2 separate regions of the Homo sapiens genome follow, and region 2 is linked to region 1. Evidence: fine-mapped expression QTL. A gene starts in region 1. The other region holds a variant in brackets. All regions are shown on one strand. Distances are between the middles of the regions.

The links. PIP is the estimated chance that this variant, and not a neighbour inherited with it, causes the effect. A credible set is the group of variants that fine-mapping cannot tell apart.
Region 2: its variant is the best candidate, but not a certain one, in a credible set for the expression of CACNG8 in lung (TOPMed, PIP 0.79).

What each region holds. Positions count from the first base shown.
Region 1 is chr19:53,960,354-53,965,655 of GRCh38, forward strand. CACNG8 (calcium voltage-gated channel auxiliary subunit gamma 8) reads left to right here and starts at 2,584. Exons shown (of 4, transcript NM_031895.6): 1 at 2,584-3,072. The coding sequence starts at 2,790. RefSeq lists enhancers at 1-614, 1,425-1,945.
Region 2 is chr19:53,840,454-53,845,825 of GRCh38, forward strand. No RefSeq gene overlaps it. Among named protein-coding and RNA genes, the nearest start is that of NLRP12, 19 kb to the left of the region's middle. RefSeq lists an enhancer at 1-641. The variant G/A (reference allele first, on the strand shown) is at 2,386.

The sequences.
Region 1 (5,302 bases):
AGCGGGCTGCTGAACTGTGGCCTGAGGAAGGGCTGTGTGTGGGCAGACGGGAGTTGAGGTGGGGGAGGGAACACAACGTGTGGGGCACTAGGCCCAGTTGCCATGGAGACACCCCCCATAGACAACCTTTTTCCACAGCCCCTCCTCGGAGCAGCCCCAGTCTGAGGCCAGCTGATGGGGGGCAGTGGAGACGGGCAAGCAATCAGGAGGCCAAGGTCACCCTGTACTGGGACCTAGGTTCTGGTTTTTGTTTTGTTTTTTTTTAATCCCCTCTTCGTCTAAGGTTTCCAGGCTCTTAACTATAGTGGGTTTGGGGGAAGAAGTTGAAGAAGCAGTGTGGAAGCAAGTAAGGAGTACATCCCCCAGAGGACAGTTGGGGTGGGGGAGACAGGCAGGGCTGGGGGCATGGTGGTCGGGGGAGAATGTGGAAGAGAGAAATGAAGGAGCCACGGGGCAGCGGGTGCAGGCTGGGAAAGTATTCCTAATTGAAAAGAGAGTTGTAGTCTTGCGGATCACATTTTTCAGAGGGACACAGTCTACTGGGGGGGCTCTTTCTGCATGTGGAAGAAGATGAGGGGCTACAGTGTGTGTTCCTGTACAGGTGAAGTCGTAGAGGGGAGTACTGGGGGGCGTTCCCAAGAAGGGAAGCCTGTGGGGGCCTGCGGAGGGGATTTTCCGGGGCAGAGGAGAACCTGGGAGCTATAGCGGTGGAGCAAGAGGAAGTGAGTCAAGGGAATTCTATATGATGAGAGAGAAGTTGGGGAGGATGCTTCCTGGTACATTGAAGAGAGAGTGGGCTTCAAAGTGAGTTAGGGGGATCTCAAGTTGGGGGAAACAGTGTGCTGAAGATCCCGTGTGATGATGAAGGGCTACGAGGAGGGGATTTGGAGGCAGTGGGAGCTGCTGTGAGTGCAGAGGGGCGGGTGGGTGGTACAGTGTGCCCCCTGCTATGGGAGTACAGGGCAGAGATTGGAATGGTCCTGAGTGGAGAGACATTTGGGGTCTGGAGGAAGCCATTCTTGCGAGTAGAAAATGCCGTGGAACTCACGGAGGAAATTTTTCTTAATGGAGGAGAAAACGATGGTTATGATATGAGTTCGTTTAAGTTGTGGGGGGGGGGGTGGCGGGGTGGGAAGATTCAGAAAACTCTTCTAAAGCAAAAGAGAGGGTGGGGGTTTTCCTGGAGTAAAGGCATAGTATGGGGTGGGGAGTGAGTGGCTTGTGGGGAGACAGTGGGGGCTGTGACAGGGAATGGGCTGGAGATGGCGGGGGGGGGGCAGCTTGCAAACCAGTGGGTCTGATGTTGGGTGCATTAGAATTCCCCAGGGAGCTTTTAAAAACTTACATGCGCAGGCCACACTGCAGACCAACCATGTCGGACTTTCTCAGGTGGGACTCAAACATCCGAATTTTTAAGGTCCTCGGGTGATTTCCAGGTGTGTTGGAGGCTGCCCGAGGCAGGAAGGGGGCTTCCAGGGAGAGGAGGCTGACTGAGGGTGGCTGGTGATTCCGAGTTGCACAAACTGTGAGGGTCAGCTGGGATTTTCTTTTTCTTTTTCTTCTTCTTTTAATTTTTCCTTTTTAGTTGAAGAGAGGTTGAGAGATTTATTTTTTCCTAAGGAGAGGAAACTGTGGGGGACCATTTGGAGTGATGGAATGACAAAAGCCAGACCGGAGGGGGCTCGCGGAGGTTACTCCCACGGAAGTGGTGCTACTCGGGCTTCTTAAGTTGTGGAGACGCTCAGGGAAAAGTTGGGCTGACAGGGAAGGGTTCTAGCGGGTGGAGAGGTGGGGCTTGCAGGGGAAGAGTGGGGAGAGCTGGTGGGCGCCGCATGGTGATGGGGCGGGGGTCGCTAAGGAAGGAAGAACGCGACGGGGGCTCCTGGGGAGGAGGCGGCGGCGTGGGGCTTGGCATCATGGCGGGGGGTGGCTTCCCATGCGATGAGGATCGTGGAGCCCCCTGGGGCGGAGGCGGCGCGGGCTAGGGGCGAGGGCTGTGAGTGTGAGCGGTGGTGGGGACTCCTCCGAGTGGGGTTAGTGGGATGGTGGGACGACTTTCTTGGGCAGAAGACAGGAGTGGAGAGAGATTTCATCTTATTTATTAATTATTAGCGGTGGTGGGGACTCCTCCGAGTGGGGTTAGTGGGATGGTGGGACGACTTTCTTGGGCAGAAGACAGGAGTGGAGAGAGATTTCATCTTATTTATTAATTATTAGCGGTGGTGGGGACTCCTCCGAGTGGGGTTAGTGGGATGGTGGGACGACTTTCTTGGGCAGAAGACAGGAGTGGAGAGAGATTTCATCTTATTTATTAATTATTAGCGGTGGTGGGGACTCCTCCGAGTGGGGTTAGTGGGATGGTGGGATGACTTTCTTGGGCAGAAGACAAGAGTGGAGAGAGATTTCATCTTATTTATTAATTATTATTATTATTATTATTATTATTATTATTTTTGAGAAAGAGAAGCAGTGGAGCCCCGAGTGGAAGGAGTTTCTGGAGCTGAGGCAGGGATTTTGGGGGGGGGGGGGCGGGGACTGGGGGAGGTACCTGTGCCTTCTTCTCCTCTAATGCGAGATCTCGCTCCTTGCCCTCCACCAGCCGCCGACCATGGCCGCGCTCTGACCCCCTCCCCGGCCGCAGCCTCCTCCTCGCCGCCCCCCTCCCCAGCCCCGCCGGCCCCGGGCCCCCCGCTTCTGCCTGCGCTGTGAACCCCCCCCCAGCCGCCGGCACGGCCCCGCCCCCGCTGCCCCGGTGGTGGCCCACGGCCCCCCGGCTGCCCGTGGTCAAACTGGAGTCGCTGAAGCGCTGGAACGAAGAGCGGGGCCTCTGGTGCGAGAAGGGGGTGCAGGTGCTGCTGACGACGGTGGGCGCCTTCGCCGCCTTCGGCCTCATGACCATCGCCATCAGCACTGACTACTGGCTCTACACGCGCGCCCTCATCTGCAACACCACCAACCTCACGGCCGGCGGCGACGACGGGACCCCCCACCGCGGGGGCGGCGGCGCCTCGGAGAAGAAGGACCCCGGCGGCCTCACGCACTCGGGCCTCTGGAGGATCTGCTGCCTGGAAGGTAGGGTGCGGGCGGCCCTCCCCGCAGCCCCCGCCGCTCCCCTCCGAGAGACCCTGAGCCTCCCGGGGCTGCCTGTCCCTGATCCTGGGGCCCCCTTGGGCACCCCTCCTCCTCTGCCAGAGGGGCTTCTGCGCCTTCCCACTCGCGCCCCTGACCTCCTCTCCCCTCCTTCCCACTCCTCCCTGCGTCCTGGCACCCTGCGGAATTCCTCGGCATGCTCCCTCTGCAGCCCCTCTGCCTCTCCGCTGAACCCCCTTATCCTATCTTTCCCTAGTCCGTGTCTCCTGCGCTGCCCCATCACACCCCTGCATCTTCCCTCTCTCCAGTACCTGGGGCTCCTCCTGTTTCATTTCTTCCACTCTGCCCTGTGCCTTTTCTCTTTTTTTTTTTTTTTTTGACAAGGTCTCACTCTGTCGCCCAGGCTGGAGTACGGTGGCACAATCACAGCTCACTGCAGCCTCGAATCCCTAGGCTCAAGCCATCCTCCCACCTCTGCCTCCTGAGTAGCTGGGACCACAGGCATGAGCCACTGTGCCCAGCTAATTTTTTTTATTATTTGTAGAGATGAGGTCTCCTGTTGCCCAGGCTGGTCTCGAGCTCCTGAGCTCAAGAGATCCTCCTGCCTTGGCCTCCAAAGTGCTGGGATGAAGGGCATGAGCCACTGCACCCAGCAGCCTCTTTCTCCCTCTTTCCCGTCAGTTCATCTTGACCCTGCTCCTCCGCTCCACCTGCCCCTTCATTTCCTCTCCCTCGTGCCCCGTGACATCTTCTCTCTCCCGACATTTCCCCCCCAGTCCTCTGAAGTCCCCTGCCTCTCCCGCCCCCTTTCACGGCCCAGTCTTCCGGTCTGTCTCTTTCCCCTTCTCTTTGGCTGCTGCTCCCCTGAAACTTCGTGCCTTAACTCGCCCTCACTCATGACTTTCTCTCTTTTCTGCCTTGTGCTTCTCCTCCTGTTCATCTTTCTCTTCCCATCAGTGCCCCCACCCATGTCTCTCCCACCAGGGTGCCCTCCAACCTCCCATCCTGGTCCTTTCCTCCTTTTTCCTTTAGTGGACTCCACTTCCTCTTCCTCCACTCATGCCTCCTTCGACGTCTTCCTGACTCGATGCCTCAGGCCTTCACGTTAAGGCTTCTCGCTCCTGCCCCTGCTACCTCCTCGGATCTTCGACTTGGTTCTTTTCCTCTGTCCTGTTCTCCCTCTCACAGCTTCTCTCCTAGCTCGGCTCCCTGGCTCTCGACTTCCCCACTTCTCCAAGACTCCTGCCCTCTGCTGTGCCAACCCCTTCTCTCTCCCACTCTTAGCATCAGTATTTCTTTCCTGAGTATCAAGTAGCTGCGGGGCTGGGAAGCAGGAGTCTTGGGTGCCAGTTCTGCTGCATATCTGCCCTGCTGTGTGACCACTGTCTTCCCTCCTGCACCCCAGCCTCACAGCCCTTGTCTGCAACGTGAAGGAGTGGAACCAGCCATCCTGATGCCCCCTTCGGCCAAAAGATTGAAATCTCTTGCTTCTCTTTTTCATCCCCCTCTATTTCCTCTGCCCCTTCTTCCTCTGTTTTGCTGAGTGTTCACGACAAGCCGGGAACGTTATCTCGTTTAATCCTATGAGGTGGGCACCACCTCGCTGTTGGGGATGGGTAAACTGAGGCTCAGAGAAGTGAAGTCACTTGCCCAAGGTCACCTAGCTGAGAAAGGGGCCGAGCCAAGAGCAGAACTCGAATCTCATGGATGGGATTCACAGATGCGCTCTGTCTAGTGTACAAAGTGTTTAAAACTGAAAGCAAAATCTGAATCCATTGCCAACAGTTAAAAATAGGGAGGCTTCCCATTGTAGTTCTGATTTCCGGCTTCTTCTGAGCTGGCGGAAGATCTAGCACAAGCCTGTGTTCTACCCTGACCACGATGGGCCGGATCTGAGCAGCAGCTGGGGGGTCTCCACTTCCCCACAGTCACCTCCATCTGCTCCGTCTCGCCTCCCATTCCTCCCACGGCTCTCGTGATGTTCTTTGCCTCTCCTGTGGAAGTTTGAGTTCATGTCCATTCACTGGTCTGACCAAGTACCAGGCATAGAGCCAAGTGTGAGGGCTCCCATCATGGGAGCCCTAGGACAGCACGTGGCATCTAGTAGGGATGTCATTCATTCATTCATTCGTTCATTCAACGTCCCATTTTTATTGAGTTTATATTATGTGCCAGGCATTGTTCTGGATTCTGGGGCTGCAGCAGTGGAAAA
Region 2 (5,372 bases), 120 kb before region 1:
GCTGGGATTACAGGTGTGCGTCACCATGCCTGGCTAATTTGTTGTGCATTTTTAGTAGAGATGGGGTTTTGCCATGCTGGTCAGGCTGGTCTCGAACTCCTGACCTCAGGTGATCCGCCCGCCTCAGCCTTCCAAAGTGCTGGGATTACAGGCGTAAACCACCGTGCCTGGCCTAAATTAATACTTTAAATTAATTAAAATGCTTTTAAAAAGTCCAGAACAGGCCGGGAGCGGTGGCTCAAGCCTCTAATCCCAGCACTTTGAGAGGCCGAGTTGGGCAGATCACCTGAGGTCAGGAGTTCGAGCCCAGCCTGGCCAACATGGTGAAACCCCGTCTCTACTAAAAATACAAAAATCAGCTGGGCTTGGTGGTGCATGCCTGCAATCCTAGCTACTCGGGAGGATGAGGCAGGAGAATCCCTTTAACCTGGGAGGCAGAGGTTGCAGGGAGCCGAGATTGTGCCATTGCACTCCAGCCTGGACGACAGAGCAAGACAACATCTCAAAAAAAAAAAAAAAAAAAACAAGAAAGAAAAACTAAAATGGTACCATGTTTTGCGTTTTTATTTTTTTTATTCTTAGTTGTTTTTTTTTTTTTTTTTGAGACATGATCTCACTCTGTCACCCAGGCTGGAGTACAGTGGTGCAATCATGACTCACTGAAACCTCAAAACTCCTGGGCTCCAGCCATCCTCCTGCCTCAGTCTCCTGAGTAGCTGGGGTTTCAGGCACGTACCAGCACATCTGGCTAATTTCTTTTTTTAATTTTTAGTAGAGATGAGGTTTCACTATGTTGCCCAGGCTGGTCTCAAACTCCCGGGCTCAAGCAATCCTCCCTCCTTGGCCTCCCAAAGTGCTGAGATTACAGGCGTGAGCAACTGTGCTTGGTCCAAATTGGTATTACGTTTTCAATTCAGGCTTCAGATAGAAGGTACCCTAGTTTTATTGCCAAGAAGAGATATAATTTCTATAAAACAACTCTCCTATCTAGCTAGTTTTAGGAACACTCCTACTGGTCAAAGTATATAAAACTAAGGGGACCAGAGTTAGCTGTAACGACCTTGGGCTCCACATATGCCTGTACTTAAGAAAATTAATGAACATTCTTGGAAGGTGGAATGCATCTTTTACACCTGAGCAAATTGAGGCTTGGGTTACACAGCTCTGCCTGGCGCATGTGATTTATTTTCTCTCTCTTTTTGTTTTTAAGACCTAGTCTTGCTCTGTTGCCCAGACTGGAGTGCAGTGGCATGATCTCAGCTCACTGCAACCTCTGCCTCCCGGGTTCAAGCAATTCTCCTGCTTCAGCCTCCCGAGTAGCTGGGATTACAGGCGCCCGCCACCATGCCTGGCTAATTTTTTTGTATTTTTAGTAGAGACGGGGTTTCACCATGTTGGCCAGGTTGGTCTTGAACTCCCAACCTCAGCTGATCCGCCCTCCTCGGCCTCCCAAAGTGCTGGGATTACAGGCGTGAGCCACCGCACCCGGCCTGGGCAAGTGATTTCTTTCTGCCTAATTGTCTAGTCATTAACCGGTAACTGAAAATCACAAACAATTTCAATCTTAGGACTGATTGCCCAGCAGTCAATTCATGCAAGATACTTTTTTTTTTAAATTGAGGCTTCCGTGGATGGTGAAAATCAAAATTGGAATGATTTTCATATGGAACAATGAAAAGCGCCCCTTTCTGAGTTTTCTAGACTGACCTCTGACCTCTGTTTCGGAGGGCCCGGCTAGGGCTGGCCTGGGACTGCAGAGGATTTTGTTTTATTTCCTGTGGACTAAATTATGATAGGATTTTAGGCACCAGTAGAGGGCGCTGAGACACAGGTGGGCGAGCAGAAGACAGGCTGTTCGAGGGGAAGTAAACCTAATCGCGTTCCCTTTAAACTTTGTAATGACTCACCACGGAGTCAACTGAGGAAGTAAAACTTAATAGGAATAGTCTCAGTGAACAATGCCATAAATTGACACGCAGCCAAGTGCCAAGTTCTGATAACAAATCAGTAAGAAATGCAAGTTAAAGGAATGCCATTGTTCCCTTAGGGGGAAAAAAACCTCTTCTTTGTTAAAGCCAGTGATGACCAGCAGAGGGTAAAGCCAGTTCAGAAGGTCAACCGGCAGTTTTAGAAATTAATATGGTCTCACGCATGAATATTCTTACAGTAATTCTACTTGGGTGATTCAACTCTGACAAAAATAGCAGAGATGTTTTCTATTATTTATTTAATTTACTTACCTTTTTGAGACAAAGTCTCGCTCTGTCGCCCAGGCTGGAGTGTAGTGGCGAAATCTGGGCTCACCGCAACGTCTGCCTCCCGGGTTCCAGCGATTCTCCTGCCTCAGCCTCCCGAGTAGCTGGGATTATAGGCACCTGCCACCGC[G/A]CCCAGCTGATTTTTGTATTTTTAGTAGAGACGCGGTTTCACCATGTTGGCCAGGCTGGTCTCGAACCGCTGACCTCAGGTGATCCACCTGCCTCTGCCTCCTAAAGTGCTGGGATTACAGGCAAAAGCCACCGTGTCCAGCCACAAACTGTCTTATCAATGGCAACTGTCTCCTGATCTGTTGGCCTCACAATAACTGAATAATAAAGCTTACGTTTTGCCAGGCGCAGTGGCTCACGCCTGTAATCCCAGCACTCTGGGAGGCCGAGGCAGGAGTATCACCTGACGTCAGGAGTTCGAGACCAGTCTGGCCAACATAGTGAAACCCCGGCTCTACTAAAAATACAAAAATTCGCCGGGTGTGGTGGCAGGCGCCTGTAATCCCAGCTATACAGGAGGCCAAGGCAGGAGAATCGCTTGAACCCGGGAGGTAGAGGTTGCAGTGAGCAAAGATTGCGCCACTGTACTCCAGCCTGGGTGACAGAGCTAGACCCTGTCTCAAAAAACAAACAAACATACAACCCCACCCCCCAAAAGACCCTACATCTTAAAACAAGAGGCAAAATTGCCCTCCGTTGAGAACCACTGTTCTAGACTTAATCTGTTAGAGTCATTTATTTATTTTATGCACAGAATAACTTTGCAAAGAGGAATGACTTTTTATTTGTTCCAGATTCTAAAATAATCTATGCAGTCTTCCGTGCAGGTTGAGATACTTAAAACTCTATCGGCAAAGGCCGGGTGTGGTGGCTCATACCTGTAATCCCAGCACTTTGGGAGGCTGAGATGGGCGGATCACGAGGTCAGGAGATCGAGACCATCCTGGCTAACACAGTGAAACCCGGTCTCCACTAAAAATACAAAAAATTAGCCTAGGAGGCAGAGCTTGCAGTGAGCTTGCAGATCATGCCACTGCACTCCAGCCTGGGTGACAGAGTGAGATTCCATCTCAAAACAAAACAAAACAAAACAAAAACTATCGGCAAAGTCACAGCCATGGCTAATTATCATACGTTTGTTCAGCAAATTCACCTTCTTTTTGCAAACATAATTTACACCGTTTAATCGGGAATTTTACACAAAAAAAAAGATTCTAGAAAACATAGCTGTCCATAACTGTCATGGTTTCCAGGTTGCAAGTTCATAATCATTTGAATTATTCAAATGAGTCTCTAAATGCTACAAAAATAATGTCTTCTACAATGACAAGTTATGGAATAAATATATAGTTGATCCTAATTTCAGGACACTTGGTATGTAAATATTTGCTCACGTTTTTCTTTGATACGTACACAAAGACTAATGAGTAAACCTGTGCTCACTTATGTCATAGCTGCTTGAAGGTTTTTGTTTTGTTTTGTTTTGTTTTTTTTGAGACCGAGTCTTGCTGTGTCACCCAGGCTGGAGTGCAGTGGCATGATCTCGGGTCACTGCAAGCTCCGCCTCCTGGGTTCACACCATTCTCTTGCCTCAGCCTCCCGAGTAGCTGGGACTACAGGTGCCCGCCACCACGCCTGGCTTTTGTGTGTGTGTGTGTGTGTGTGTGTGTGTGTGTGTGTGTGTGTGTGTTAAAAGAGACGGGGTTTCACCATGTTACTCAGGATGGTCTCGATCTCCTGACCTCGTGATCTGCCCACCTTGGCCTCCCAAAGTGCTGGGATTACAGGTGTGAGCCACCGTGCCCAGCCGAAGTTTTGTTTTTTGTGTTTTTTTTTAATTTAAGCAAACATATGGTTTTTGTTTTTTATTTATTTGTTTTTGAGACAGGGTCTTGCTCTGTTGTCCAGGCTGGAGGGCAGTGGCAAGATCACAGTTCACTGCAGCCTCAACCTTCCAGGTTCAAGCAATCCTCCCACTTCAACCCCCCAGCTGGCTGGAATTACAGGTGCACACCACTATGCCCAACTAATCTTTGTATCTTTTTGTAGAGACGGGGTCTTACTATGTTGCCCAGGCTGAAATATATGTATTTTAAGGAAAGGATGAAGTAAATAGTATTTTAGTATATAAATAAGAGTTGAGTATCCTTTATCCAAAATGCTTGGGGCCAGAAGCGTTTCGGATTTCTGATTTTTCAGATTTTGGAATAATTGCATATAACCACAACAACCAACATTTACTGAGCACCACGTACTGTGTGTCAGGCAATGATCTGAGCCCTTTACATGCATTAAGTTACGTAATCACTCAACAACCCACGAGGTGTGTATTGTCATCAGTTTCGGTCCACAAAGGGGAAGCAGAGCGGAGAGGAAACCTGCGCAGGAGTGCGCCCAATACCTTTTGCTGTGTAACAAGCCTTCCCCTCCTGTGAAAGGGCCCTATGTGCAAAGCAGCCCCCAAATACACATGGAGTTAAGAAACTGAAGAATGAGGCAAATCCAGGTTATCAATATAAAGTTTCATTTTCTTCTTCTTTATTTGAGATGGAGTCTTGCCCTGACGCCTGGGCTGGAGTGCAATGGTGCGATCTCGGCTCACTGCAACCTCCACCTCCCGGGTTCAAGAGATTCTTCTGCCTCAGACTCCTGAGTAGCTGGGATTACAGGCGCCCACCACCACGCCCAGCTAATTTTTGTATTTTTAGTAGAGATGGGGTTTCGCCATGTTGGCCAGGCTGGTCTCGAACTCCTGACCTCAGGTGATCCGCCCCGCCTCGGCCTCCCAAAGTGCTGGGATTATAGGCATGAGCCACGGTGCCCAGCCCCTCCCTCCTTTCCTTCCTTCCTTCCTTCCTACCTTCCTTCCCTCCCTCCCTCCCTTCTTTCTCTCTTTCTTCTTTTTGTGGAGAAGGAGTCCTGCTCTTTTGCCCAGGCTGGAGTGCAATGGCGCGATCTTGGCTCACTGCAACCTCCACCTGCCAGGTTTGGCGATTCTCCTGCCTCAGCCTCCCGAGTAGCTGGGACCACAGGCACCCACCATCACGGCACGGCCAACTAATTTTTGTATTTTTAGTAGAGATGGGGTTTCACCATATCGGTCAGGCT